Homo sapiens: one gene and its partner. The protein of the gene in region 1 interacts with the protein of each later gene in a biochemical or structural test. Each region holds a gene or a part of one and is shown in the gene's direction. Other genes may lie near its edges.

What was found.
Region 2: the proteins of TF (region 1) and TFR2 form a complex in vitro, tested with the Homo sapiens proteins (one study listed by BioGRID).

What each region holds. Positions count from the first base shown.
Region 1 is NC_000003.12:133,770,380-133,777,405, forward strand, and holds part of TF (serotransferrin isoform 1 precursor), read left to right. Parts: intron 1-128; coding exon 129-193; intron 194-5,053; coding exon 5,054-5,238; intron 5,239-6,669; coding exon 6,670-6,859; intron 6,860-7,026. UniProt on the Homo sapiens protein: Transferrins are iron binding transport proteins which can bind two Fe(3+) ions in association with the binding of an anion, usually bicarbonate.
Region 2 is NC_000007.14:100,631,532-100,638,557, reverse strand, and holds part of TFR2 (transferrin receptor protein 2), read left to right. Parts: intron 1-4,907; exon of another isoform or gene 4,908-5,001; coding exon 5,002-5,142; intron 5,143-5,217; coding exon 5,218-5,329; intron 5,330-5,434; coding exon 5,435-5,557; exon of another isoform or gene 5,558-5,635; intron 5,636-6,359; coding exon 6,360-6,476; intron 6,477-6,612; coding exon 6,613-6,752; intron 6,753-7,026. UniProt on the Homo sapiens protein: Mediates cellular uptake of transferrin-bound iron in a non-iron dependent manner. May be involved in iron metabolism, hepatocyte function and erythrocyte differentiation.

The sequences.
Region 1 (7,026 bases):
CTGTTAGAATGGAAGTTACAGTTGCTGTTTTCAGATGGCTGTCCTGAATCTATAAGGTAGCCCCCTGAATGACAGATAAGTCACTCTGACCGCCTTTTTTTTTCTCTCCCACTTCTGGACCTCTGCAGGTGTCTGGTTGAGAAGGGAGATGTGGCCTTTGTGAAACACCAGACTGTCCCACAGAACACTGGGGGTAAGTGCACCTGCTCCTCTGTCCCCCTAGATCACTAGATCCTGGTCACTGGTATTCACTTGTATTCAGGGATGCCTTTGTGGAAGTATTATGTACACTGTCAGACTTCAAAGCTCTGATTCTCAGTCTGTCTGCTCAGTGAAGAGAGACATGTTCACCTGAGTGCGCAGAATGATCAGGATTATGGGGCCCCCAATGGCCCTAAATCCTCCCCAACACACACTCCCACAGCTGCAAGCCTTGTGCTCCTTTCCCCTAAATACTTCAGTGCCTATTTCCTAAGAATAAGACAATCTCTTGCATACCCACAGTATGATTACCAAGATCAGGATCTTTTACATTATGTGGATTTAATACTCGTCACGTCCACAGTCCACATTTAACTGTTGTCAGTTATCCCAGTAATGCCTTTTATAGCTATTTACTGTACTTCTGGGTTGTGTCCATTGAGAAGGCCTAGAGGCAATGGCATACCAGCAGGAGTAAGCACCAAGATATTGGCTTGTAAGTACTCTTCTTTACTAAAAGGAACCAGAACTCCTTGGAAAAATAGCTGACTTCAGGGCTGGGGCAGGAAAAATAGATGCTGAGCCTAGAACAACACACTGAAGTGCTCAAACAGTGATGGGACACTCAAAGCATACAAGAACCAATTTGAAGGATCTCCTGTTGCCAAGTCTGGGAATTTTGAGCATTAAAATAAATAATGATAGCAGTAAGGGATAATAGCCCATTGAAAGAAATAAGAATGCATGAGGCAATACTGATTAAACAAATGAAGAAGGGAAAACTAATCAATGTGGAAGGAATGATAGAGTTAGAAAACTATCACTTGGCAACCAATATATTGATAACTGATTCAAGCAAGAATCAATGGGTGTTAAGCCGGGCGCAGTGGCTCACGCCTGTAATCCCAGAACTTTGGGAGGCCGAGGCGGGTGGATCATGAGGTCAGGAGATCGAGACCATCCTGGCCAACAAGGTGAAACCCCGTCTCTACTAAAAATACAAAAAATTAGCCGGGCGCGGTGGTGGGCGCCTGTAGTCCCAGCTACTCGGGAGGCTGAGGCAGGAGAATGGCGTGAACCTGGGAAGCGGAGCTTGCAGTGAGCCGAGATTGCGCCACTGCAGTCCGCAGTCCGGCCTGGGCGACAGAGCGAGACTCCGTCTCAAAAAAAAAAAAAAAAAAAAAAAGAATCAATGGGTGTTAACTTGTGGGTGAACGTTGGACAGCCATAATATTAATAAAAACAAACAAAACAAAGCAAAACAAACATTGGCCAGACTGAGCACTCCACACCTGACCCCTCAGTATCACTAAGTGCTAGCAGAGCCCACTGGAATTCAAGCTGTGAATACTTCCCTGCCTTCTCTCATGTTCATTCCCCAACTCCTCACTTTTCCTGGGCAACTCATCCAGAATGAACCGGCTCAGCACCAGCCCCTCCAGGAAGCCTTCCCAGATGGCATACCCTGTCCTACAAGAAGACTCCTCTGTTCATATTGCCATTATGATTGAATTCACCACACTCTGTAATACACTTTGGCTACAGAAACTCTTTGAGCTCTTTTTCTTCATCTTATATTCCCAGAACCTAGTGTAGCACATAGTACACAGCAGTTGCTAAGAATTTGTTTGCAGAAATATTGGGTTGACTAATTTTCCTTTCTTCCCTCGTATTATTGCTTTTTCCTTTAAGAGAGTGTTACCCTAAGCTTGGCTCTTTGCCACCCTTGATTTCTTTTGGTACTTTTCTGAGTAGAGCTCCCTTCTTTAAGCTTTGACTCTCTTACTCTTTGCAATGACTCAAAAATTCTTCCCTCCTGCATAGAATTAAGATAGGAGGCCTGACATCCAATCTCAATTCCATTCCAGTCTATTTCCCAAGGTGTCACTTTTATGTAGAGAGTACATTGGCATTGCAATTGTATTTTTTTACGTGTGTATATGGATGTCCTCATATATTGTAGTTGTATATATACAATCCATATACAACTCAACTGTCCTCATCTTTCTGTCAACGTTCCCTCCTCTTCTCCCAGCCTCTATCCTTATAGAGAATCCTGCTATACTCCCTGCCCATCAGGCCTAGATTAAGTCTGTCAGTCAATATCTTATTTCTTCAAAACGTGTCTTTTTTCAAACTAAATTTTGAAATAATTGTGTGTATTTAAGGTAGACAACATGATTTTTAAGAGCCAAAGTAATTTTGATGTATTGTAAGTTTGGGAACTACTGGTCTAATACCCCTGACTTAATATCACATTCCTGATAAATATTACTAAATGTAAGTCACATCATGTCTGATTCATCATACTTATATTTTGCACCTTCTTACCTTCTTCTGTTATTAATTTGTTGCTTTTTCAACTTATATTTTAGATTGAGGGTACATATGCAGGTTTGTTACATGGTATACTGCATGATGCTGAGGTTTGCGGTATGATTGAACCTGTCACCCAGGTAGTGAGCATAGCACACAACAGGTAGCTTTTCAACTCTTGCCCCCCTCTCTCCCTCCTCCAAAATCTGTCTTAAGTGCTATGGTATATACAAGAAGGAAGACACAAAACCACGTGGGCTTTTTTTTTTTCTTTTTTTTCTTTTTGAGATGGAGTCTCACTTTGTTGCTAGGCTGGAGTGCAGTGATGTGATCTCAGCTCACTGCAAACTCCGCCTCCCAGATTTAAGTGATTCTCCTGCCTCAGCCTCCCAAGTAGCTGGGACTACAGGCGTGCACCACCACGACCAGCTAATTTTTGTATTTTTAGTAGAGACGGGGTTTCACCATGTTGGCCAGGATGGTCTCCATCTCTTGGCCTCATGATCCGCCCACCTCGGCCTCTCAAAAGTGCTGGGATTACAGGTGTGACCCACCGCGCTCAGCCCACATGGGCTCTTTTATCACAATTTGTGTGTGTGTGTGTGTGTGTGTGTGTGTGTATGTGCATATTATAGGTGTGTGTAGGAAAAAGAATGTTAGAAATGTACCAATTTTGAAGGCGTAGACTATGAAATTACAAATGCTTCAAAATTTTCTTCCCAATACTTACGTGGCATTTTATAAATTTCCACCAATAAACGTGTATTATTTTTATTGAAAAAGCATATTTTTAACATGCCCTTCTAGATGCCCTCCTAGCCAGACTGAATCACCTCCCATTTGATTTTTCTTAATTTTCTACCTTTAGGTTCTGGCTCATTCATTAACATCAATTTCCATTCATAAGTCCTCACAAACCCACTTTTCCTCTTGCCTGAGTGCCTCACATACCCTACTGCCTGAGATGGTTCCAGAGGCGGTCTCCTCTCTCCCTTAGAAACACCAGGCACACACCTGCCCCCAGTCTCGCCTGCACTCTCCTTTCCTCCCGCAGAGAGGCATTCCTTTCTCCTCCTCTCATCCTACACACACTATAAGAGACAACTGAAATCTTGCCTCCTCCAGCCAGCTTCTTAATTCATTTGTTCTCAAAGCCCTGGTTTGAGCTCACACAGCATCTAGAGTGTTTTACAAAATATAAAATATTATTATCCCTGCCCTGAATTTTTTGTTTTGGTATGTGTGTTATTTTCCCCTCCAATAAGATTGTGCCTTGGAGAGGGCTGAGAACATAGTATCATAGATAAATGAATAAAATAACATAAAATAAAATAAAAATACATATACCCTTTGAACTAACTATTCCACTTCTATGTAAGCACAATTATATGCCAGTAACACTCATTTTAACGCTACTTTAGTGGCAAAAAATTGTAAACACCTCAGATGCCTATTAAAAGAGGAATGGTTTAAAGATACTATTATAGCCACACTATGAAATATAATACAGTAGTTAAGAAGAACGAGCTTGATTTGTATGTACTGACAAGAAGAATCTATAAGGTATGTAAACAGTTGAAAAAAAAGCTACAGAGTTTTACATTTGTCAAGATCTAACACTAAACAAAATTAGAAACATGTGAAATCCATATACACACGTAGAAAAATACATATAATGAGCCGTGGATGGAAACTCGCAAATGTGATATTAAAGACTAGCACTATAAGACTGAGTGAGATTTGGAGAGTATAGGAAAGGAGGCTTTTAGTTAATATAGAGAGATATTCAAAAATTTATGAGTGTGATCTCATGTATTAGTTATTCGGTTAAAGAAACAAAATTAAATGAAAAATACATTTTTAAAAAGGTTGCAATTCTGAATTATGGGAGAGAAATAAAAATTAGCAAAACATATTTGCAAAGTGGCTCAGGAGGAAGGAGCTGAAACCCTAAGAATGGGTGAGTTTTTTTTTTTTTTCAGAGACAATACAGAAAAGAAGAGGCAAAGGGGCCGAGATGGGATACAGACCTGTATCACACAGGTGTGTGCACATTCTCATTTAGAACTGGAACAAGGGAGTCAGATTTAAAATTCTGGTGCAGATTCCAAAGGTGTTCTCTGAGGAAAAGTTCTTTTGTTTGGAGATGCCATGTGTTACAGCACAGAAATTGATCAACCTGGCTTAGAGCGTCACATTCTTCCTCTGTTGGAGCAAGAGGTACAGAAGGAATTGGAATTTAGTGGAATTGAAGATCTTTTTGAACAGCATCTGCAGAATGTAGTTCATTCTCACCTGGCTGGGTAGGGAAGGTTGGAAGGGGATGGTCAATAATCATTCCTGGTCACTGTGAGTCTGGCATCACCTTGTAGACCACATGGGTGTCTCTTCCTGTCCACATCACTGTAACCCCAGTGTGGGCACTTCTGCTGGCGAGAAGGCCCAGGTTCTCTACACACCACTGAGTCAGTTCCATCTCCCCAGCGGGGCACCTTGACCAAAGCCATCAGCTGAACCACCTTCTTCCTGTCCCTAGGAAAAAACCCTGATCCATGGGCTAAGAATCTGAATGAAAAAGACTATGAGTTGCTGTGCCTTGATGGTACCAGGAAACCTGTGGAGGAGTATGCGAACTGCCACCTGGCCAGAGCCCCGAATCACGCTGTGGTCACACGGAAAGATAAGGAAGCTTGCGTCCACAAGATATTACGTCAACAGCAGGTATGGACCAGCCAGGTCCTCCCACCTTTTCTTCCTAGATGGCCATAGGCTATTCGGGGGGAGTTTACAACAAAGTGCAGCCATGACTCCAGCACTTTCTTTTTGAAAACTAGAATTCCATGCATTGTGCATTTCATGCCATGCATTGTGGACTAGAGTATCAGGGTTCAAATCACAGCTCCACAGCTTCCTAGTTGTGCCATCTTGGGTATGTTACATAACCTCTCTATGCCTCAGCTTCCTCATATATAAAATTGTAATAATAATATTTTTACCTACTTCTCAGTTAACATGAGTATTAAGTGAAGACATGCACCCAAACGGCATAGGAAAATTCCATTTCCTATAGGACGTGCTCAAAATATGTTAGCTGTGTAATTATGGAACTAGACCTCTCAGGCCCAGCTCTGCTTCTAGCTCCTGGTCACTGGTGATTAGATCTGATCCATGTACTCTTGGGACTAGGAATCTGCCTTTCTGCTCCCCCTAACCTTGTTCAGGGGTACCCTCATTTCCCCTACTCCTGTCCTTCCCGAAAATGAAGAAGACAGCTCCTGTTTCCCAGCGCTTGTTGATACGAGTCATGAAGAGTGGATTTCTGTTCCTCTTGCCTAGGCAGACTGAGCACTGTTCTCAACAGTCTGAAAAACACAGGACCCTTGCCCTCGGAGAGCCTGCCCTCTGGGGGAACAACCACTCAGGGCCAGCCTTGTTGAAGACAGGGGCTGCCTGAGTATTCTAATCCTAAAGGCCCCTCCACACACACACATCACCTTCCTTTTGGGCATAGCTGCCTGCTGTTGATTCACCATTACCTTTTTTTAAAAAAAATAAGAGTATATTTGAAGTCCTTTTAAGGTACATGACAATAATAAGCATTTAACATACATTTCCTAGCTGCTATATGGAAAGTTCAACATTTTGCAGTCATCATTTCACTTACAACCTTTGGAGATCTGGAGAAGCTGAGTGGCTTGCCCAAGAAAGGATTCAAAATGCAGTCAAACATGAACTTTTAAGAACTACCTCTGCCACTCCTCTGGGAGGGTTCACATTTAACATCTTCTTTGACAATAACATCTGAAGGGACATGTTATTGTCCTCTCATTTCCTATAAGCAGCCCCCAGTGAAGGGCAATGAAGTGGGGAAGAGAGGTCAGAGTAGGCAGGCATGGGTGTGGGTGGGAGGGACTTATCAGAGGAAGGTGGGACCAGGGACCCTATAGATGATTTTGGGGGCATCATGAAAGCATGCAGCTGGGGCCCTAAGTGGATAAATGGCAGATAAAGGAGGTGGAAAATTCCCAAGACATACTCCGTAGCTTCCCTTTTTCCCCAGGGCTGGTTCAGAGCTTTCAGACTCTTCTCATCCATGTGTTCCCAGCTGCTAAAGACCACAAGGTCCTCACGGACTTTCTGTTCACTTGACAGCACCTATTTGGAAGCAACGTAACTGACTGCTCGGGCAACTTTTGTTTGTTCCGGTCGGAAACCAAGGACCTTCTGTTCAGAGATGACACAGTATGTTTGGCCAAACTTCATGACAGAAACACATATGAAAAATACTTAGGAGAAGAATATGTCAAGGCTGTTGGTAACCTGAGAAAATGCTCCACCTCATGTGAGTAGGAGGAACAGCATGGGGAAGTGGCAACCAAACATGGTGGTGAGTGCTGGGATGGTGGGTGGGTACAGGAGGGGTAGGCTGTGGCCCTTGGGATAGGACAACATGGACAAAATGAAATGGTGAGTGAACAATCTAAGCCCGGCATGTATGACAGGCTAGAC
Region 2 (7,026 bases), on another chromosome or scaffold:
GACTGGTCTCAAACTCCTGACCTCAGATGATCCACCCACCACGGCCTCCCAAAGTGCAGGGATTACAGGCATGAGCCACCATGCCCAGCCTAATTTTTAATTTTTTTTAGTAGAAACGAGGTCTCCCTATGTTGCCCAGGATGGTCTCAAACTACTGGCCTCAAACAATCCTCCCACCTCAGCCTCCCAAAATGCTGGGATTATAGGAATGAGGTACCGCACCCAGCCTGCTCAGGGCTTTTAAATTAAATTACAGGTCAGGCATGGTGGCTCACACCTGTAATCCCAGCACTTTGGGAGGCCGAGGTGGGCAGATCATGAGGTCAGGAGATCGAGACTATCCTGGCTAACATGGTGAAACCCCGTTTCTACTAAAAACACAAAAAATTAGCTGGGCGTGGTGGCGGGCACCTATAGTCCCAGCTACTTGGGAGGCTGAGGCAGGAGAATGGCATGAACCCGGGAGGCGGAGCTTGCAGTGAACCGAGATCGCGCCACTGCACTCCAGCCTGGGCGACAGAGCAAGACTCTGTCTCAAAAAAACAAAACAAATACAAAATTAGCCGGGCGTAGTGGCGCATGCCTGTAATCCCAGCTACTCGGGAGGCTGAAGCAGGAGAATCGCTTAAACCCAGGAGGCGGAGGTTGCGGTGAGTCAACGTCGTGCCATTGCACTCCAGCCTGGGCAACAAGAGTGAAACTCCATCTCAAAAAAAAAAAAATTAAATTACATTAATTTTTTTTTGAGACAGGGCCTTGCTCTGTCACCTAGGCTAGAATGCAGTGGTGCAATCTGGGCTCACTGCAGCCTCGATTTCCCAAGCTCAGGTGATTCTCCCATCTCAGCCTCCTGAGTAGCTGGGTCTACAGGGAGGGGCCACCACGCCCAGCTAATTTTTCATTTTTCTTTTTTCAAAATTATTATTATTATTTAGGGACAGGATTTATTTATTTTTATATATTTGCAACCAATTCTCACTCTGTTGCCCAAGCTGGAGTACAGTGGCATGATCTTAGCTCACTGTAACCTCCGCCTCCCGGCTTCAGGTGATTTTTGTGCCTCAGCTTCCCAAGTAGCTGGGACTACAGGCGTGAGCCACCATGCCCAGCTAATTTATGATTTTTTTGTTTGTTTTTTGTTTTTTTCTTTTTTTTTGTGAGACAGAGTTTCACTCTTGTTGCCCAGGCTGGAGAGCAATGGCACGATCTTGGCTCACTGCAAACTCCGCCTCCCGGGTTCAAGCGATTCTCCTGCCTCAGCTCCCCGAGTAGCTGGGATTACAGTCATGCGCCACGACACCCAGCTAATTTTGTATTTTTAGTGGAGATGGGGTTTCTCCATGTTGGTCAGTCTGGTCTCGAACTCCTGACCTCAGGAGATCCACCCACCTCGGCCTCCCAAAGTGCTGGGATTACAGGTGTGAGCCACTGCGCCCGGCAATTTATGTATTTTTTTTAGGGACAGGGTTTCATCATGTTGGCCAGGCTGGTTTCGAACTCCTGGGCTCAAGCAATCCTCCTACCTTGGCCTCCCAAATTTCTTGGATTACAGGCGTAAGCCATGGTGCCCAGCCTGTTCAGGGCTACTTTTATTTTTTTGAGCAGTATTTGGTCATCTGGGTACAGGCTGAGCAGGTAGATAGTTTGACAGGTCTAGAAGCGGGGTGTGGCACTGAGGCAAAAGTAGCAGTTTTGGGGAGAGAGCAAGGATGTTGCAGTGAGCCGAGATCGCGCCATTGCATTCCAGCCTGGGCAACAAGAGTGAAACATGGCTCTCGGTGGGATGGAGAGGGAAGAGAAAGTGGGGGGAGATGATACATGTGGAGCTATAGGACATTTGTCATGTTCAATGGGGTTGAAGAGCAGGTACAGCGAGGATAACTGGGGGAGTTGGAACCTGACAGGGTCTACTCAGAGAGTAGGATTCTGGATCCTTGAAAACTTCCTGATACAATATATCCTGTCTATCTCAGAGTCTCCAGCACCTACCACAATGCCTGGCACTTACTAGATGTTCAGTAGATCCTCAATGGATAAGTATTCCAGAGATGGAGTGCGGGTAATGACAAGATGCAGGATACGGGCCAGGCACAGTGGCTCACGCCTGTAATCCCAGCACTTTGGGAGGTCAAGGCAGGTGGATCATCTGAGGTCAGGAGTTTGAGACCAGCCTGGCCAACATGGTGAAATCCTGTCTCTACTAAAAATACAAAAATTAACTGGGTGTGATGGTGCATGCCTGTAATCCCAGCTACTCGGGAGGCTGAGGCAGGAGAATCACTTGAAACTGGGAGGCAGAGGTTGCAGTGAGCTGAGATCGCACCAATGCACTCCAGCCTGTGAAACAGAGCAAGACTCCATCTCAAAAAAAAAAAAAAAAAAAAAAAGATGCAGGGTGTGACCAGGGAAGTGGAGTGCCTGGACTGGAGGTGACAATGATGAAGTAATTAATTCATTTATCCAACAAGTATTTTGGGGCATCTACTACGTGGCAGGTACTAAGCTAAGCAGGTGGTGGTGAGATAGAGACTAAAACAGTCTAACTTTGTTCTCATGGTGCTTACAATCCACTGGAGAAAACCAATACTAAACTAACAATCATTCACGACTACATAATTATGACTGGAATCATTGCTTTGAAAGAAAAGCAAAGGATGTGAGGCTCAGTGTGGTGGCTCACACCTGTGAGCCCAGCACTTTGGGAGGCTGAGGTGGGAGGATCTCTTGAGCCCAGTTTGAGACCAGCCTGGGCAACATAGAGAGATCCTGTCTCTTAAAAAAATAATAATAATTTGACCAGGCACGGTGGCTCACACCTGTAATCCCAGCACTTTGGGAGGCCAAGGCAGGTGGATCTCCTGAGGACAGGAGTTCGAGACCAGCCTGGCCAACATGGTGAAACACTGTTTCACCCTTTTTAGGCTCTACTAAAAATACAAAAAAAATTAGCTGGGCATGTTGGCGGGCACCTATAATCCCAGCTACTTGGGAGGCTGAGGCAGGAGAATTGTTTGAACCTGGGAGGTGGAGGTTGCAGTGAGCCAAGATTGCGCCATTGCATTCCAGCTTGGGCAACAAGAGTGAAACTCCATGTCAAAAATAATAATAATAATAATAATAATAATTTTTTAAAAAAGAAAAATAAAAAATTAGCCCAGTATGGTGGTGCATGCCTAGAGTCCCGGCTATTCAGGAGGCTGAGGCAGGAGGATGGCTTGAGCTTAGGAGCTGAAGGTTGCAGTGAGCTATGGTCATGCCACTGCACTCCAGGCTGGGTGACAGAGTGAGACCCTATCTCCAAAAAAAGAAAAGAAAAGGGGCCGGGCGCCATGGCTCATACCTGTAATCCCAGCATTTTGGGAGGTGAAGGTGGGCTGATTGCCTGAGGCCAGGAGTTTGAGACCAGCCTAGCCGACATGCCGAAACCCTGTCTCTACTAAAAAAATACAAAACTAGCTGAGTGTGGTGGTAGGCGCCTGTGGTCCTAGCTACTCAGGAGGCTGAGGCAGGAGAATCACTTGTACCCAGGAGGCAGAGGTTGCAGTGAGCTGAGATTGCACGACTACACACCAGCCTGGGCGACAGAGCGAGACTCCGTCTCAAAAAAAAAAAGAAAGAAAGAAAGAAAAAAGAAAAGAAAAGTGTGTAAAGAAAGACTATAACCAGGATCCTGATTTAGATTGCAGTTCAGGGAAGGCTTCGTTGAGGAACTGACGAGTCTAAACTGCCAAGATGAGTAATTTGCCAGGCAAAGAGACTGTGGAAAAACATTCAGGCTGAGATTCACCATTTGCGAAGGGTCTGAAATGTGAAGATGGTGGCCTCTTGGAGGAAGGGAAAGATGGTCCATGTGGCCGGTGAGGTGGATGTAGCTCAGGCCCTAAAGGGCCTTACTGGCTACTTTAACTGTTTTGAATTGAATTTTCCTGCCTCATCCCTGAGTGATCCTCCCCACTCCCCTCCCCATAAGCACCTTATCTCACGCTTTTGATGTGTAGCTTTAAATACACATATGGGGCGGGTCGTCATGGTTCATGCCTGTAGTCCCAGCACTTTGGGAGGATCGCTTGAGGCCAGGAGTTCAAGACCAGCTTGGGAAACACAGCAAGACTTCTCGTCTACAAAAAATTTTTAAAAATCAGCGGTTGGTGGCGTACACCTGTAGTCCCAGCTGCTCAGGAGGCTGAGGCGGGAGGATGGCTTGAGCCCAGGAACCGGTGATTCCCCTGAGTACCTTGGTGTAAAGTGTCTCCATGAGGCCCACGTGGAGGATGGGGGAGATGAGGAGGGTCTGCTGCCTGCCCAGTTAGCTCTTTCGAAGGAAAGTGTTTGGGTGCTGTGTGTGTGTGTGTGTGTGTGTGTGTGTGTGTGTGTGTGTGTTGACGTCGGGAGGAACGAGGTTGGGGGAGAGAGTTTGGCTTGAGCCGGGAAGAACCTACAGGATGATGGGCAGGACCCCCAGCTATGGGAAGTCAGGTTTTAAGCAGAGTGAGGTCCTGAGAGTCTCCGGCGCCGCCCTGGTGGTGATGGGAGAAAATGGGTCCGCGGAGGGCCCTGCACTGCGGCTCGCGCCTGTAATGCCAGCACTTTGGGAGGCCGAGGCGGGCAGATCACCTGAGATCAGGAGTTTGAGACCAACCTGGTCAACATGGTGAAACCCGTCTCTACTAAAAATACAAAAATTAGCCGGGCGTGATGGCACGTGCCTGTAATCCCTGATACGAGGGAGGCCGAGGCAGGAAAATGGCTTGAACCAGGAAGGCGGAAGTTGCAGAGAGCCGAGATTGGTCCACTGCACTCCAGCCTGGGCGACAGAGCGACACTCCGTCTCAAAAAAAAAAAAAAAAAAAAAAAAAAAAGCGTCCGCGGGGAGCGCTCTTTTCCTAAACTCAGGAACCCCTCGCCGCCCCTGCCCCTGGCGACCCCACGTCTCTGGCATCCTTCCCTCTTCCCTCCCTCTCCTCCGGGCGCCCAGAAAAGTCCCCACCTCTCCCCGCTTAGGCAAACCAGCCTTCGGGAACGGGTGGCAGGCTCGGCCGGGATGGCCGCTCTGACTCAGGACATTCGCGCGGCGCTCTCCCGCCAGAAGCTGGACCACGTGTGGACCGACACGCACTACGTGGGGCTGCAATTCCCGGATCCGTGAGTGCGCGCGCGGGCGGGGGGCGCGCGGGGAGGGGGACGCGGCTCGGGGCGCTCACCAGCCCCGCTCCCCAGGGCTCACCCCAACACCCTGCACTGGGTCGATGAGGCCGGGAAGGTCGGAGAGCAGCTGCCGCTGGAGGACCCTGACGTCTACTGCCCCTACAGCGCCATCGGCAACGTCACGGTGAGCACCCCCTGCCCGCTCCTAGGATGGGGCGCGGCACGAGCCCTTTCCTGGGTCTCGAAGGAGGGACGCGGGGAGCGCGCCTCACCGTCCTCGTGTCCCCAGGGAGAGCTGGTGTACGCCCACTACGGGCGGCCCGAAGACCTGCAGGACCTGCGGGCCAGGGGCGTGGATCCAGTGGGCCGCCTGCTGCTGGTGCGCGTGGGGGTGATCAGCTTCGCCCAGAAGGTAAGTGTCCCTGGACAGAGGGAGGGCTTGAGCCCGGGAACCGGAGGGTCGGACTGCCAGTGAGAATCGTTCAGGGTGCTGTGAGAGGGAGACAGGAAAGAACCATGTGGCTGGATGGTAAGAAAATATAAGCTGGGCACGATGGTTCTCACCTGCAATCCCAGCACTTTAGGAGGCCAAGACAGGAGGATCGCTTGAGGCCAGGAATTCAAGGCAACACGGTGAGAACCCCCTCTCTACTAAAAAAAAAAAAAAAAAAAAAGGTTCTTTTTTTTTTTTTTTTAGTTAGCTGGGCTGGTGGCACATGCATGTGGTCCCAGCTACTCCGGAGGCTCCGGTGGGAGGATCGCTTGAGCCCAGGAGTGCCAGGCTGCAGTGAGCTATGATCGCGCCACTGCACTCCAGCCTGGGCAAGAGAGACTCTGTCTCAAAAAGAAAAAAAAAAAAAAGAGAGAGAAACAGAGAAGGGAGGGAGGGAGGGAGGAAGGAAGGAAGGAAAATGTTGGCTGGTCTGGGAATTGAATCAGAAGGAAAAAAGAAAATGTTGGCTGGGAACAAATTGGGTGTTGGGGGAAATCAGATGGGGAAGGGAACAGAAACATGGGGTACCCTGGAGCCCGGTGGGGTTTGAGGGCTGCCTAGGAGCTGCTGAGGTTGGGAAGACACAGGCCAGGTAGTGCCCCCACATCCTCTCCGTGGGATGGACAGTTGCAAGCAAAGGCCTTGCCATTTCCTGGTTTCTCCTGCCCTTATGAATCGGGTTTTTTTCTGGGAGGAGTCCTCTAGTCACCTTCCTCCCCAGGTGACCAATGCTCAGGACTTCGGGGCTCAAGGAGTGCTCATATACCCAGAGCCAGCGGACTTCTCCCAGGACCCACCCAAGCCAAGCCTGTCCAGCCAGCAGGCAGTGTATGGACATGTGAGTCTGGGGAGGCTGGTCGTGCTGTTCCCAGGTCCCGAGGCCACACCTTCTTGCTCAGAATAGGGCTGGCATGTTTTTCGTTTTTCCTGGAAGCCCAGCTCGCAGCTTTGCGTGGGCACCCCTTTCCCTGCAGGTGCACCTGGGAACTGGAGACCCCTACACACCTGGCTTCCCTTCCTTCAATCAAACCCAGTTCCCTCCAGTTGCATCATCAGGCCTTCCCAGCATCCCAGCCCAGCCCATCAGTGCAGACATTGCCTCCCGCCTGCTGAGGTGAGGGGAGTGTTGGGGACCAGAAGAGGAGGAAGCAGAGAGAGGAAGGCTGCAGCGAGGCCACAGGGTGATTGTGGGTGAACTAGAAAAAGGTGACTCTTGTTTAAGCCTGCAGTGAGCCATGACTACACCACTGCACTCCAGCCTGGGAGACAGAGAGACCCTGACCTTTTTTTTTTTTTGAGATGGAGTCTTGCTCTGTCTTCCAGGCTGGAGTGCAGTGGTGCAATCTTGGCTCACTGCAACCTCCACCTCCCGGGTTCAAGTGATTCTT